Homo sapiens: one gene and its partners. The protein of the gene in region 3 binds, or shares a complex with, the protein of the main gene of each other region. Each region holds a gene or a part of one and is shown on either strand. Other genes may lie near its edges. A codon is read from its position in the direction of its gene.

Evidence for each region. The genes of interacting proteins can lie anywhere in the genome.
Region 1: the proteins of GNAI1 (region 3) and HRH3 are in contact, whole or in part, in a cryo-EM structure (PDB 8YUU), measured with the Homo sapiens proteins. Residues at the interface, in NP_002060.4 of Homo sapiens: Ala31, Arg32, Glu33, Val34, Leu194, Thr219 (codon at 298), Lys314, Asp315, Glu318, Ile319, Tyr320, Thr321, Thr340, Asp341, Ile343, Ile344, Asn347, Leu348, Lys349, Asp350, Cys351, Gly352, Leu353, Phe354; in NP_009163.2 of Homo sapiens: Asn69, Asp131, Arg132, Ser135, Val136, Ala139, Val140 (codon at 353), Ser141 (codon at 356), Tyr142 (codon at 359), Arg143 (codon at 362), Ala144 (codon at 365), Gln146 (codon at 371), Ile221 (codon at 596), Ile225 (codon at 608), Arg228 (codon at 617), Arg232 (codon at 629), Phe344 (codon at 965), Thr345 (codon at 968), Phe348 (codon at 977), Arg349 (codon at 980), Arg352 (codon at 989), Asp353 (codon at 992), Lys355 (codon at 998), Val356 (codon at 1,001), Ser359 (codon at 1,010), Leu360 (codon at 1,013), His416 (codon at 1,181), His417 (codon at 1,184).
Region 2: the proteins of GNAI1 (region 3) and C3AR1 are in contact, whole or in part, in a cryo-EM structure (PDB 9IPV), measured with the Homo sapiens proteins. Residues at the interface, in NP_002060.4 of Homo sapiens: Glu28, Ala31, Arg32, Glu33, Val34, Lys192, Asp193, Leu194, His195, Lys314, Asp315, Glu318, Tyr320, Lys330, Phe334, Phe336, Asp337, Ala338, Thr340, Asp341, Ile343, Ile344, Lys345, Asn347, Leu348, Asp350, Cys351, Gly352, Leu353, Phe354; in NP_001313404.1 of Homo sapiens: Asn57, Arg120, Val123, Val124, Pro127, Ile128, Gln131, Asn132, Asn135, Val136, Tyr356, Ile359, Arg362, Met363, Arg367, Phe368, Lys370, Gln372, Lys374, Thr375, Val378, Ala379, Leu438, Gly439.
Region 4: the proteins of GNAI1 (region 3) and CCKAR are in contact, whole or in part, in a cryo-EM structure (PDB 7EZH), measured with the Homo sapiens proteins. Residues at the interface, in NP_002060.4 of Homo sapiens: Glu28, Ala31, Arg32, Glu33, Val34, Leu194, Thr219 (codon at 298), Lys314, Glu318, Ile319, Tyr320, Phe336, Thr340, Ile343, Ile344, Asn347, Leu348, Lys349, Asp350, Cys351, Gly352, Leu353, Phe354; in NP_000721.1 of Homo sapiens: Thr74 (codon at 1,693), Thr76 (codon at 1,687), Arg139, Ala142, Ile143, Pro146, Leu147, Ser149, Arg150, Val151, Ser156, Ser298, Asn299, Ser300, Ser301, Asn304, Ala307, Lys308, Val311, Leu315, Met373, Asn374, Lys375, Arg376.

The regions. Positions count from the first base shown.
Region 1 is NC_000020.11:62,214,460-62,217,278, reverse strand, and holds the end of HRH3 (histamine H3 receptor), read left to right. Parts: intron 1-352; coding exon 353-1,273; 3' UTR 1,274-1,872; coding exon of another isoform or gene 1,873-1,900; 3' UTR 1,901-2,319; downstream 2,320-2,819. UniProt on the Homo sapiens protein: The H3 subclass of histamine receptors could mediate the histamine signals in CNS and peripheral nervous system. Signals through the inhibition of adenylate cyclase and displays high constitutive activity (spontaneous activity in the absence of agonist).
Region 2 is NC_000012.12:8,063,560-8,067,644, forward strand, and holds the start of C3AR1 (C3a anaphylatoxin chemotactic receptor), read right to left. Parts: upstream 2,801-4,085; 5' UTR 2,719-2,800; exon of another isoform or gene 2,662-2,718; intron 1-2,661.
Region 3 is NC_000007.14:80,207,831-80,211,330, reverse strand, and holds part of GNAI1 (guanine nucleotide-binding protein G(i) subunit alpha-1), read right to left. Parts: intron 363-3,500; coding exon 233-362; intron 1-232. UniProt on the Homo sapiens protein: Guanine nucleotide-binding proteins (G proteins) function as transducers downstream of G protein-coupled receptors (GPCRs) in numerous signaling cascades.
Region 4 is NC_000004.12:26,487,685-26,491,806, forward strand, and holds the start of CCKAR (cholecystokinin receptor type A), read right to left. Parts: upstream 2,801-4,122; 5' UTR 2,584-2,800; coding exon 2,472-2,583; intron 1,801-2,471; coding exon 1,549-1,800; intron 1-1,548. UniProt on the Homo sapiens protein: Receptor for cholecystokinin. Mediates pancreatic growth and enzyme secretion, smooth muscle contraction of the gall bladder and stomach. Has a 1000-fold higher affinity for CCK rather than for gastrin.

The DNA of each region.
Region 1 (2,819 bases), on a different chromosome or scaffold from region 3:
TCTGGGGCTGATGCTGAGTCTGGTCCCAAGGGTGCAGGGGCCAAGGACAGGACCCCCAGGGAGCTCACAGCTGGTAGGGGGTGGTAAACAGGCAGCCTAGCAGAGAGTGAGGGTTCAGGTTGGTCCCAGGGAGCTTCTGAGGCTCTCACTGAGTGTGGCAGGGCACCAGTCCGGGACCCCAGTGGGGAGGGTTAGAGGAAGGGAGGGGAAAGAGGGAGGGAGGGAGGACAGGAGGGGAAAGGAGGAGCATTGCTGCTGAGGGAAGGGCCCACATAGGGGCCCACAGGCTACGGGGGCGCACCCAGCCCAATATTCCTTCCGCCCCGCCCCTGACCAGCCTGCCCTTCTGCAGGTCTCATACCGGGCCCAGCAGGGTGACACGCGGCGGGCAGTGCGGAAGATGCTGCTGGTGTGGGTGCTGGCCTTCCTGCTGTACGGACCAGCCATCCTGAGCTGGGAGTACCTGTCCGGGGGCAGCTCCATCCCCGAGGGCCACTGCTATGCCGAGTTCTTCTACAACTGGTACTTCCTCATCACGGCTTCCACCCTGGAGTTCTTTACGCCCTTCCTCAGCGTCACCTTCTTTAACCTCAGCATCTACCTGAACATCCAGAGGCGCACCCGCCTCCGGCTGGATGGGGCTCGAGAGGCAGCCGGCCCCGAGCCCCCTCCCGAGGCCCAGCCCTCACCACCCCCACCGCCTGGCTGCTGGGGCTGCTGGCAGAAGGGGCACGGGGAGGCCATGCCGCTGCACAGGTATGGGGTGGGTGAGGCGGCCGTAGGCGCTGAGGCCGGGGAGGCGACCCTCGGGGGTGGCGGTGGGGGCGGCTCCGTGGCTTCACCCACCTCCAGCTCCGGCAGCTCCTCGAGGGGCACTGAGAGGCCGCGCTCACTCAAGAGGGGCTCCAAGCCGTCGGCGTCCTCGGCCTCGCTGGAGAAGCGCATGAAGATGGTGTCCCAGAGCTTCACCCAGCGCTTTCGGCTGTCTCGGGACAGGAAAGTGGCCAAGTCGCTGGCCGTCATCGTGAGCATCTTTGGGCTCTGCTGGGCCCCATACACGCTGCTGATGATCATCCGGGCCGCCTGCCATGGCCACTGCGTCCCTGACTACTGGTACGAAACCTCCTTCTGGCTCCTGTGGGCCAACTCGGCTGTCAACCCTGTCCTCTACCCTCTGTGCCACCACAGCTTCCGCCGGGCCTTCACCAAGCTGCTCTGCCCCCAGAAGCTCAAAATCCAGCCCCACAGCTCCCTGGAGCACTGCTGGAAGTGAGTGGCCCACCAGAGCCTCCCTCAGCCACGCCTCTCTCAGCCCAGGTCTCCTGGGCATCTGGCCCTGCTGCCCCCTACCCGGCTCGTTCCCCCAGGGGTGAGCCCCGCCGTGTCTGTGGCCCTCTCTTAATGCCACGGCAGCCACCCTGCCATGGAGGCGCCTTCCTGGGTTGGCCAGAGGGCCCCTCACTGGCTGGACTGGAGGCTGGGTGGCCGGCCCTGCCCCCCACATTCTGGCTCCACCGGGAGGGACAGTCTGGAGGTCCCAGACATGCTGCCCACCCCCTGCTGGTGCCCACCCTTCGCAGTTACTGGTTGGTGTTCTTCCCAAAGCAAGCACCTGGGTGTGCTCCAGGCTTCCTGCCCTAGCAGTTTGCCTCTGCACGTGCACACACCTGCACACCCCTGCACACACCTGCACACCGTCCCTCTCCCCGGACAAGCCCAGGACACTGCCTTTGCTGCCTTCTGTCTCTTGCATAAGCCTCAGGCCTGGCCCTTTCACCCCTCTTCCCACCAACTCTCTCTGCCCCCAAAAGTGTCAAGGGGCCCTAGGAACCTCGAAGCTGTTCTCTGCTTTTCCATTCTGGGTGTTTTCAGAAAGATGAAGAAGAAAACATGTCTGTGAACTTGATGTTCCTGGGATGTTTAATCAAGAGAGACAAAATTGCTGAGGAGCTCAGGGCTGGATTGGCAGGTGTGGGCTCCCACGCCCTCCTCCCTCCGCTAAGGCTTCCGGCTGAGCTGTGCCAGCTGCTTCTGCCCACCCCGCCTCTGGGCTCACACCAGCCCTGGTGGCCAAGCCTGCCCCGGCCACTCTGTTTGCTCACCCAGGACCTCTGGGGGTTGTTGGGAGGAGGGGGCCCGGCTGGGCCCGAGGGTCCCAAGGCGTGCAGGGGCGGTCCAGAGGAGGTGCCCGGGCAGGGGCCGCTTCGCCATGTGCTGTGCACCCGTGCCACGCGCTCTGCATGCTCCTCTGCCTGTGCCCGCTGCGCTGCCCTGCAAACCGTGAGGTCACAATAAAGTGTATTTTTTTATTGGTGCTGATTCCTGAGGACTTTGTGGGGTGCTCAGAGCCTTCGTGCTTTGAGGAGAGACTCCAGGGAGTCCAGAAACCACTGAGAAGCAGGCGTGAGGATGAGGGCTCTGTGTTTTCTTCTAAGTCGGGGGACTGCAGTGGGGATGAAAGACCAGCCTGCCACACCAGGGTTTAATCCCAAGAAGGGTTTCATGTGCCCTACCGCCAGACCCCTGCACTTCTCAAGACCTGGCTGGCGGGTGAGGAGATGCAGCCCACGCCCTGCACAGGAGGGGCCCGCTCTGGCCCTGAGAACACAGACATGCAGCCTTCCTGCCCCCAGGACAGGTGCCTCATCTTTCTTGGTCAGGAGCAGGGTTGCACCCCAGCAAAACTTGGGACCCAGGGAGGATCATGGCCATGCCCAGCGTGTGCAGGGTCTGGGTGGCAAAGGGACTGCAGTGACCAGAGGGGAGGGATTGGGCTAGCTGGCTGGAGCTAGGCTGGAGGGGCTGCTAGAAGGGATGAG
Region 2 (4,085 bases), on a different chromosome or scaffold from region 3:
ACCAAGTCTTCAGCTTCTTAATTTGTGTGTGTGCGCATGTTTGAACCTTTTTTTCATATTCTATATGCAATGACACATTTTATCTTGTACAATAATTATAATGGCTGTCTAATCTATTATTCTGGATTTAAACTTTATGATGGTAAAAAGGAGTCTTATTCATAAATGCTCATTTCACATAATTTAACATAATGCCTTATGAGACACCAAGGTTAAAGATTATGTGGAAAGGCTGGGCGCAGTGGCTCATGCCTGTAATCGCAGCACTTTGGGGGGCCGAGGGGAGAAGATCGCTTGGGGCTAGGAGTTCAAGACCAGCCTGGCTAACATGGCAAAATCCCATCTCTACCAAAAATACAAAAATTAGCTGGGTGTGGTAGCTCACACTTGTAATCCCAGCTACTTGGGAGGCTGAGGCACGAGAATCGCTTGAACTGGAGAGGTGGAGGTTGCAGTGAGCTGAGATTGCACCACTGCACTCCAGCCTGCATGACAAAGAGACTCTGTCTCAAAAGAAAAAAAAAGAAAAAAAAAATTACTTGAATAGATGGATGCCCATTTTGGGGGTTGACTTTTTTTTTCTTTTGCAATTACATCTAAAATTCTAATTTGTATCCATGTAATCCTTACCCAGGCCTCTTCCTTAATTCCCATGCTGTCCCTTTTAACTTTCTTTTTGTGAAATTCCTAATTTTTACTGGATAAAATAACATTTTACTTTTATAGAGGCTCAAAATATTTTTGTGACTTGAAAGTAGTTCTGCTGAGTCAGCCAAATATTGCCATAGGGCCTCATATGATTAGCAGAAGTTAAAATAGCAAGTCAACAAAATAATAAAAAAGAAGACATGGGCTGGGCACAGTGGCTCACACCTGTTATCCCAGCACTTTGGGAAGCCAAGGCAGGCAGATCACCTGAGGTCAGTTTGAGACCAGCCTATCCAACATGGAGAAACTCTGTCTCTACTAAAAATACAAAATTAGGTGGGCATGGTGGCACATGCCTGTAATCCCAGCTACTCAGGAGGCTGAGGCAGGAGAATCGCTTGAACCTGGGAGGCAGAGGTTGTGGTGAGCCGAGGTTGCGCCACTACACTCCAGCCTGGGCAACAAAAGCAAAACTCCATCTCAAAAAAAAAAAAAGAAGAAGAAATTATTCTCATTCCCCTTTCCATGGCCTTGTCTACTCAGATATTTAAATACTATCACGGTACCCCCCTAAAATATTGAGAGAAGAATAGAGTCATGGGATGCTAGGGCTGAAAGAAAACTTGGTAATCATCTCTCCTCTCCTCATTTTGTTGTTGTTGTTGTTGTTTGTTTGTTTGTTTGTTTGTAGAGATAGGGTCTTGCTATGTTGCCCAAGCTGCTCTCAAACTCCTGGACTCAAGCAATCCTCCCATGTTGGCCTCACAGTGTGCTGGGGTTACAGACATGAGCCACTGTGCCCAGCCTACGTTTTCTCTGCTTTTATTTCTCAAGTTTGACAGTGAAACTCAGCAAATTAGATTACAAGCATATAATCATTACTAGGGAGGTTCTTGGATTTCAGGTCCGAGGACTGTTAGGCAAATGCTGTTTTTACTACCAAAAAAAAAAAAAAATCACATTAAAAAAAAAAAGATATATGGTATTGCTAATAAAGGGGAAGCTGCCGAGAACTGCATGAACTGAAGTAGCAGGGACTGCAAACAGCAAAATTTTAATAAAAATAGAGTTATCTGTCATGAGCTATATGTTAAATATTGTTATTATCTGTTTTGAAATGAAAGTATGTAGGAGTCAGGGATTAAAAGTCCTTTAGAACAAGGCTGGGTGTGGTGGCTCACGCCTGTAATCCCAGCACTTTGGGAGGCAGAGGCGGGTAGATCACCTGAGGTCAGGAGTTTGAGACCAACCTGGCCAACATGGTGGAACCCTGTCTCTACTAAAAATACAAAAAAATTTAACTGGGTGTGGTAGCACGTGCCTGCAATCCCACCTACTCAGGAGGCTGAGGCAGGAGAATCGCTTGAACCTGGGAGGCGGAGGTTGCAGTGAGCTGAGATCATGCTACTGTACTCCAGCCTGGGCAACAGAGTGAGACTCTGTCTCAAAAAAAAAAAAAAAAAAAAAAAGTCCTGCAGAGCAAGATTACTTTTTACATTTCTTCAAGTTAATTTGGCTAAAAATACCATACCTTTATGTGTTTAAGATTAGTAGAGGATTAAAAAAAATTATTACTAAGTTGACCAGCCGTAATTTAAAGGTAATTAATATCCTGAAACTAAAATTCCACTGTGATAGAGAAAGAAAAGTGGACCCCAGAATCAAATTGTAGTAATAGGATAACAGAGTCAGTAGCAATAAGGAATGGGCAAAAGAATAAAAAAAAGAAAGAGGAAATGGAAAGGGAAAAAAAGTGCAATCAATTATTTGAAAAACAAATTAATGGGGACAGCTGGAATCAAAGTTCAGGGTGAAATACATAGCCAATTCAAAGAAAGGAAAGAAATGATGTAAAAATTCACTATTAATTCCACTATGAAAATATTAAAAGCAAAGACAAATGCAATGTGGAATATTTAGAAAAAGGAAGTTAGACATAGAGATAAGATAAAAGAATTCAAAGTCAGAGAAGGAATAGGGGAAATAGAAGATAGTGACACTCAAACTCATTACCTATAATGAGCAAAACAGGCTAAGCACAAGTCATCAGGTAGGTCTAGGTTTTCTTACCAAAAAACTGAGACAGTAGCTGAAGGCTTCAGCACCTGGATGTCTCCACGAGTCCTGTCTGGTCCCCACACTTAGCCACAGTGAAGTCATGAAGTATGGCAAGAAAATTTGCTGAGCTTTCTCTTCTTCTGTTCTCTCTCTGTTTCCGGCAATAAGTTAAGTCTTATGCTCTAGACCACTATCTGACCTCACAGGAAGAGTTTCAAAGTGAGTCATTTCTAAATGGCTTAGAAAGGCAAAGCAGGAAAACAGAAGTAGGAGTTTATAATCCTGAGACATTTTCTGCAGCACACAGAGAATGGTTAGAGAGAGGGTACCTCTGTACATAGGGTTCAACTTTATAGGTTTTGTTTAGAAATGAAAAAAAAAAGACTCTATGAGATGTGAGGGTTGGAGTGGGGAGTGGTTGGGGAGGAATGACCTGAATAAACTCATTTAATTAATCTCAAATAACATATCTGAAATGCTTGATATATGTGAAAAACGGTGCCATGTCAAAATCAGGATGAATTAAGCTATATTCTAATCTCCAGAGATTCACAATCGAGTGGGAATATGTACCCATACATATACACACAAAGCTGTAATACAAACTAGGCTATAATAATAGAAGTAACAATAGAAGTAAAATAATAGAACACTCTAGCCAGGGGTATATATAACCCAGGGCAATCTAGGAGAGTCTTAAGATAGAAATAAGATGTGGGCAAGTACTTAATTAAGTACCTGTAGGAATTCTAGAGACAGAAAAAGGTGAAAAGCTGCTTAGGCTATAAGTGGAGCCTAGTCAAAGGCAGGTAGGTGGTAGAGGGCAGGTAGGTGGGGAGGTAGGTGGGAGAGCTTAGTGGTCACTGGAGAACAGGCTGGAGTCTAGGTGCTGTTTCATCAGGAAGGAGTACAGAAGACTGAAGGTAATTCCTGCTTAATGAATACTATGCTGTAAATAATTCTTATATTATTCTTTTAGATATATGCATATACTCTTTTAGATATATGCATATAAAATAAAGTTTATTTGGGTCAAATGTATTTGAACACTGTTGTCTGTGATATAGGCTTCAGTCTATATTAATCAACTTGTCCAAACCATAATATCTGCTCCTCTGCTTGTTTGCAGTCAAGTCACCACGGAATATTTTTGAGGCAGAAAGATCAAAAGAAAAATGCCAAGAGTTGAGTAGTATTTATTAGTTTATTTCCATTGTCATCATCTAATTACAAAAATAGAACATACTTTGTTCTAGAAGAGATAAATTGAAATAATACAGAATTATAATGGGTAAAAAAAATGAAAGATTTTCTTTTCAATTCCACTGCTCGAAGTAACTATTTTTAATAGGTTAGTGTTCATTCTTCCTGATTTTTTT
Region 3 (3,500 bases):
GATACAGAAATGCATAGTTAAGCTTACAGGCTTGAGGTGAGATTGACTCTCCATGTTTTCCTTTTCCTCAAGATCCACCTGTGCTTCTCTAGTATATCTCTCTTTTATCAAATAGAAAAGTTAGAGGAAAGACCCTGTACTTTCAAATTGTTATAGACATTAGAAAGAAATTCTTGGCAACACCTTCAGCTCTTCATGTTTCAAGCTCAACTCTTAAAGTAGTTCTACTTGCCATTTCTTCATCTTCAGCTAGAACCAGGTCGTAGTCACTCAGTGCTACACAGAAGATGATCGCCGTCACTCCTTCGAAGCAATGAATCCACTTCTTCCGCTCAGATCTCTGACCTCCCACATCAAACATTCTGTTAAGAGGAGAAATGAGTTAACATCACATTAAATGTTCAAAAAGCTCTGAGAAGTTCTTTAATGCTAACAAAAAAAGCTCTGAATAGTTGTGGAAATGTCTGATGAAAAGGAAGGAGAGAAGGACTTTATGGGAGAAAAAAATGTCACAAACTGGACTTCTCAAAAGGGGAAAAAAACCTGCTAGTTTTTAAAATTTTTGATTGAAGGGAGGGTATCTCTAAAAAAAAAAAAAAAAGCAAAAACAAAAATAACCTCAAAAAAACGAGACATTAACACACATGAGAACACTTAGAACATTAAAGCAAATACAAATGAATGGACTGCACTATGTGTAAACACTGAGAAGTCACATGAAGCAACTGGGGAATGCAGAGATCAAAGAGTAAATATTCCATTTGCCACAGTCACGGAACATTGAAGGCAGAGAACAGAGACCCCTCCTCCTACTAAAACATGTCGTTTTAACTCAGAAATAATAAGCAAGGCTTTGATGTAAAGAAGAAACCATTTCAGGTAAGAAAATGTAGGGCAAGCAAATGAAATTCAGATAGGGTAGGTTTGCATAAAAAGTAAAATCATGATACATTACAAAATGAGAGAACTGAAATATGAAATAAATGAGGGATCCTACTGAATGGCCTTAAAATTTAGAATGAAAAAAATTCAATTTTTATACAAGAGTGAACCACTATAGGTTAGTGAACAAAGTAGTAGCAAAATCAAACAATATAAAGACAATAGTCTATTCCTTTTCTCTTATAAGACTTTATAAAGTTAAGCAAAAGTTAAAATTTGCATAGACTACATTATGCAACCTAGAAATAACCACTTATATAATGAAAACACTATGCGAACTGGTACATTTTTAAAGGCTCCATTTATCTAGATGGTGCACTAATTAAAATAGTCCCTATTTAATTCCCAGGCAAAAAGAATTTTCCCTACAGAGCAGTACTGGCCTATAAACCAAATTTGAGTACATCAACTAGTATTGTTACTTTTATGATCACTTAAGTGGGCTTCTTCATTCTTTTGGCTTAGCTGGTACCATTGTTCATTAAATTCAGGTAAGCTATATAACAAAATGTTTCTACCACAAACTAAATCACAGAGTTAAGATGTAAAAAACATAGCTGGTAATAACGATCAAACAAGAACAAAATAAATGACAGTAAATTAAAATGATATAAATTGGGTTACCATTTGCTAAAATGCCCAGGAACACAATTTGAAAATAACTTTACTGAAAAGATAGCATATCTCAGATAACTTCTCTGATTAGATGTCACACATCCTCTGTCCATCCAATAACAGATGTCAATAACAACCCAAATGACCCTAGCCCACATTTCCTCTCTGTGATGGTATAGTTTTGTGTGTTAACTTGGCTATGCCATCATACATTTATCTAGGTGTTATTTAATGAAACACTTATTTAGATGTTGCTGTATTTTATAGATATGATTAACATCTGTAATCAGTTAACTTTAAGTAATGGAGACTATCCTTAATAATACAACAGCCCTCAATCACTCTACAGGCTAAAACTGGCAAAAACTGAGGTTTCCCAGAAGAAAATGTAATTCTTCCTCCACAATGTTATGACAATTCATGTCCAAGCTTGCCAGCCTACCCTACAAACTTCGGACTTGTTAGCCTTCATAATCCCATAAACCAATTCCTTGAAATAAACATAACCTACTGGATCTGCTTTTCTGGTGAATACTGATGATACAACTTTAGTGCAGAGAATGAGGTGCTACTCTAACAAATACCTAAAAACATGGAAGTGACTTTGGAATTGGGTAATATGTAGGAGGTAGAAGAATATTTAAGCATTTGACAGAAAATAAAACTACACTATCTTGAAGAGATTGCTGGTAGAAATAGGGAGATTAAAGACAATTCTGCTAAGAGCTGAGATGGAAATAAAGCTGGAAAGAACCTTCTGTTGTCTTAGAGAATACATGTATCATTGTGGACAGAATGTTGTAGATATACAAACGTTAAAGGAGCTTTTAATGAGGTCTCAGAAGGAAATGAAAACATGTTATTATACACTACAGAGAAGACAGTCCTTGTTATAAAGTGGCAAACAGCTGGCTGAACTGTGTGTTCCAGCGCTGGGTGGAAGGTGCAACTTCTAAGCAATGAACTTGGATATTTAGCTGAGGAAAACTGCAAGCAAAGTGTAGAAGGCTGCAGTTTCCTGCTTGCTGCTTATAGTAAAATGAGAGTGGAAGAGATAAACTGAGGAATGAACTATTAAGCCAAATGGAACCAGACGCACAGGGAAGGAGGACATGTGATGACAGGTGGAGAATGGTCATGGTCATAAACAAAGAACTCAGAGTCTAAGCTAGTGGTTCTCAAACTTTGATGTGATTCAGAATGTTAGGAGTCAGATGTTACTAGCTTGGGGGACCATCCTTTTGAGGATCAATTAATCCCCAAGTCAATTAATCCAGAAGCAACAATGACAGAGAACTGATATTACAAATGATCAAACTGCTTAAGTTTGTTGGAATTCAGAGAGAGCTAGATGAAGATAACTAGAAGAAACACTAATTTTTATCACTGCTTTCATTTTCCATATAATGGTAGCTAAAAATGTACAAGCATTATTCATTGCTCTACACTTATATTAGAAGTATCTTCATTATTTTATATACTGTTAAGTTCTGAACTTCTATTTAAAAAGAGCAAAAATATGGTATTTTCTCCTTCATATAAAAAGATAAGAGTTTAAACCAACATCACATAGGAAATGAATTTGAGTTTTCTTAGGGATTCTGAAGGGTGGGGTGGAAGGAGATGTTGGACATGCTGAGAAGTGATGATTTATGCCTTAGACTAGCATCTAATACCACTGTCACCAAAACTAACTGGTACAAAGCTAGCTAACCATATATGGATATCAAACTCATAAACTGGATGTTGCATTCCCAAATGCATAACGCATTTATACTACTATAGAAATGAAATAGAAATTTATCTCATATTATGATAATTTTAGGATAGAAAGAATGCTTTATATCTGACAAAAAAAAGTAAAACACAGTTGCTGATTCTTTAATTAAAGCAAAATGATCCACATAGACACTGGCCATAAATGCCTAATCACAGGGATAATA
Region 4 (4,122 bases), on a different chromosome or scaffold from region 3:
TGAAATTTACATAACATAAAATTAACCTCATTTCAAACTGAACAACTCTGTGGCACTCACAATGTTTTGCCACCATGAAAACACTCATTTAAAATCTCGGTTCACATTCTCTGGTTAAGGTTCCCAAATAGTATTACCATAAGATATATATGGATGGGCCTCGGATGTCTACAGTGCTAGTTATTATTATTGCTTCATTATTTAACAACGATCTTTTTCCTTTGTAAGTTTTGTCTTTTTTTTTTTTTTCAGAGGACTTGGACATGGATTGACACATTCTTGGTTTTTGGTGGCACGAGGGTCAGTAATTCACCATCATTTTGTCAGTGTGGAATCCCACTTCCTCAACTGGGAAAAATGAGGACTTATAAGGCTTTCTGGTCATTGAAGACTGCCCTAGCCTAACTCAGTTCTGCATATTCTGCAAGGCTTGGGTCAGAACAAAAAATAACTCCCTTCTTATTTCCCATCTCTGCCCTTCTCCCAACTAATTCTCAGAAAGGGCAAGGGACTAGGCAATCTGGCACCCAGAGGGGACCAAGAAATGTGTTTTTTTGTTCAACTTTAAGAGAACCACAGCAGTTGGCAAACTGAGGTATCATGCTCACCATTGTGTGGCTACAAATCTGGACTCAAATCTCAGCTCTGTTGCTTACCATCTGTGTGGTTCTAGGCACATTATGGACCTCTCTGTGCCTCTGTTTCCTCCTTAGGGAGACAAGGAAGAATCATTGCATTTACTTCATAGAGTGGTTGGGAGATAAGGTAAGATCATGGAAGGCAAAGCACTTAGTACCACATGGGGTGCATAAAAGCGCTAAAAAAATTTAGCTCTTATGATTTTCATTATCATCATTTTTGTTTGGCATAGGCAAAGAGCTATATATCTCAGCCAATCAGGGTCAGCTTAGCGACCCCATAGCCCCCAGGAGCAAATTCAACTCCTCATCTAGGGGCAGAGACCTCTCTCTCTCTCTCTTTCTGCCAGAGATGGCCCCAGCTTTGGGGAGAACAGGCTGGGAAGTGAATCCTGAGAAGAGAATCTGAAACTGCGATAGAACTGGTTTTCAAATAGCCCCTGTTCCCTAAGAAAACAAAAGAAACAACTGCAAAGAACCCTCCTCCATCATCCTCACCCTCCCTAGAAGCCAGGACTCAAGTTGTGTATAGATCAGGACACAGTCAACAGCTTCCAGAAAGGGATAGAGCAGCTTAAAGTCACTTCTGACTTCAAACAGAAGCAAGCAAGTCCCTCTTCCCTTCAAATAGAAGCAAGCAAAATCAACTGCCCCTGTGTTTTCCTATCAATTTATTTCACTCTTAGAAACTGACCTCCAACATGGATGATGGGGACCGACTTGTGGGGAACGTATAAGGATGACTGTCAAGCCAGCACCAATGTCCGTGCACACAGCCATGCACAGCCTGATGTTCTGTGATTCAGCCCTCAGCAGGGCTCCTTTGCTGTGATTGTCAGAGGTTTGGGAAGGTCTGGGGCTGAGTGGGGTCTGGGGCAAGCTCCAGAAAGAGTCACCAGCAGCAACTTACCCATGAAGTAGGTGGTGGTCTTGCAAACGGCGCTCCCGAAGATGAAATCCTTGAGCAGATTGGGGATGAGGTTGAACGGCATGCAGAAGAGACAGAGCATGAGGTCGCTGACAGCCAGGGAGAGGAGGAAGATGTTGGTGACCGTCCGCATCCGCTTGTTCCGAATCAGCACGGTGATGACCAGCGTGTTTCCCAGCACGCTGAGCAGGAATATCAAGGAGTACAAGAGAATCTGCACCGCTGGCTGCCACTCTGCAGAGAGAAACAGGAGCAAGACGGAGGGATGGAGGTGATGACAGCAGAATGCTAAAACCGAAGCCAAGGGTGAATTCCTGCCGATTTTCCCCCCACCGGGGTGTACATCACTGGACCCACGATTCCTGTCCTGGCAACATTTTGCGGAAACAAATTGAGGAAAGCAGAGACTGAATTATTTTCTTTTTAGAAGGTTGGTTTGTTAAAGGATCACTCAGGGAACCACTTTTTCTTAAGAACAAAGCTCCTCAAGTGAACAGTGATCACTTTCTTTCCTGGCTGCTAAGCATTATTTCACTTTAATCACTTCATGCTGGGTTTCCCCCCAAGAAAAGAAAACAGCTGCATGGTGACAACACCTTTTCTGCTGTGCTTGTAAGTTCAGGCTTTGACACTTGTAGTCCCTCTTGCTTCACTCAGCTTTTCCTCCCCTGCTTTTGTTCCCCCAAGTCCTATTCATGAATGCCCAACTCCCCCATGGGGGACAATAAGAATATTTGACTCTATTCTGCTTTTTAATCTCTTCTCCAAACTTCTGAACATATGACTTTATCTAGCCTTGTCTCACAATGACTTGGTTATATATATTTTTTATCAGCCTTGCCTTTGCTGATTTCTCCCACAACTCAATAGTTTCCTGAATTAAAATAACAGCTTCCGACACTTACCTTTGGAAGGACGGGGCTGATCCAAGCAGAAAAGCGTCTCATTTTCGAGCCCGAGTTCACAGGGAGGAGTGATGTTGCTTCCATTCACAAGAAGGCTGTCAACCACATCCATCCTTGCCTGCTGCTTTCCACCAAGTGCTGGAGAGCTGGTGAATTGCTCACTCCCGGCTCATTCCTCTAATGACCGAAGCGTCTCGCAGATGCAACCTGCCGTGGAGGAGCAGGGAGGGAGTGATTTCCAGGTGTGGGCTTTTTCAGCCATTCCTAAAGGCGACTTGAGTTCACCTCACTCACTCCAGCATTTGTACTCCTGTTGTGGAAAAGGCAGTGAGCACAAGCCAAGCCCGCTCCACCTTCACCCCGCCCCACCTCCCCCGGCCCTTTCCTGGGCCAGTCTTAGGGCCCTGAGTACAGACAGCCTGGCTACCCGTTAACCATTCTCAGCGTGTGGCTGCTTTTTACACACATGTGTACATATGCACGGACACACACACACACACAGAGGCTTCCCCAGTACTCCTCTATATAGGAACCCGTCACCATCCCAGACATATGCAGAAGAAAGCCCAAACCGGCTGTGTGAGACAGGAACAATTAACACGGTAACAGATCCGATAATGCAGACCATCAGGCCTAAAGAACACGGAGGGACTGTGTTCTACCTCCTTATAGAAAAGCAATTAGTGCCTTTTTAGCTTTGGAACCATGCCCGGTGGTGTGTGTGTGGACAGAACTGCTGGCTGGTTGTTAAGTTGCTACTAAACACAGTGTTGTTTCTCGTGGTCTCTGCCCTTGTTAACTAGGATTGAGGCACTTTTGAACATAGGTACCTGGGTCCTTATTACAAAAGACGTTAGTGAGATTTCCTCTTCATTCATGAAGCCTTGCATTCAGCACATCTTCATTGAGAGTCAATCATTTGCCAGGCACTTTTCTAGCATGTCAGCAAATAATGAGCAGAATTATTTCAGGTAGTAAGTACTACAAAGGGAGTAAAGCAGGGAGATGTGATGTATACAAACAGATTAGGGGCTGATTTTTTGGGGGGCGGGGACAGGGTCTTGCTCTGTTCCCCAGGCTGCAGTGGAGTGGCGCGATCATGGCTCACTGCAGCCTTGCTCCCTGGCTCAAGCAATCCTCCTACCTTAGCCTCCTGAGTAGCTGGGACTACAGGCACACACCACTAAGCCCAGCTGATTTTTTTAGTTTTAGAAGAGAGGAGGTCTCGCTATGTTGCCCAGGCTGGTCTCAAGCTCCTGAGCTCAAGCAATCCTCCTGCCTTGGCCTCCCAGTGTTGGCATTACAGGCGTGAGCCACTGCACCTGGCCTGGGGCTGCTGATTTAGAAGGGGTAGTCAGGAGAGGTCTCTTAAGGAGGGGACTGTGATCTGAGACTGAACCACAAGAAGGACAAAGTCTTGTGAAGATCCCAAGACAGCTTCTCCCAGGCAAAAGGAGGAGCACTTTTAGCAGAGGTAACAGCAAGTGCAAAGGCCCTGAGGTGGGAATGAGTGTGGCCCCATTGAGGTACAAATAGATAGAAGTAGGAGTGAGTGAGAGGCAAACAGCAGGACGTGAGATCAGAGAGGGGGGCCATCTCAGGGTCCTGGGTGTTCCATGAAGCTCTGTGGTGCTGGAAAGCCCTTCAACCT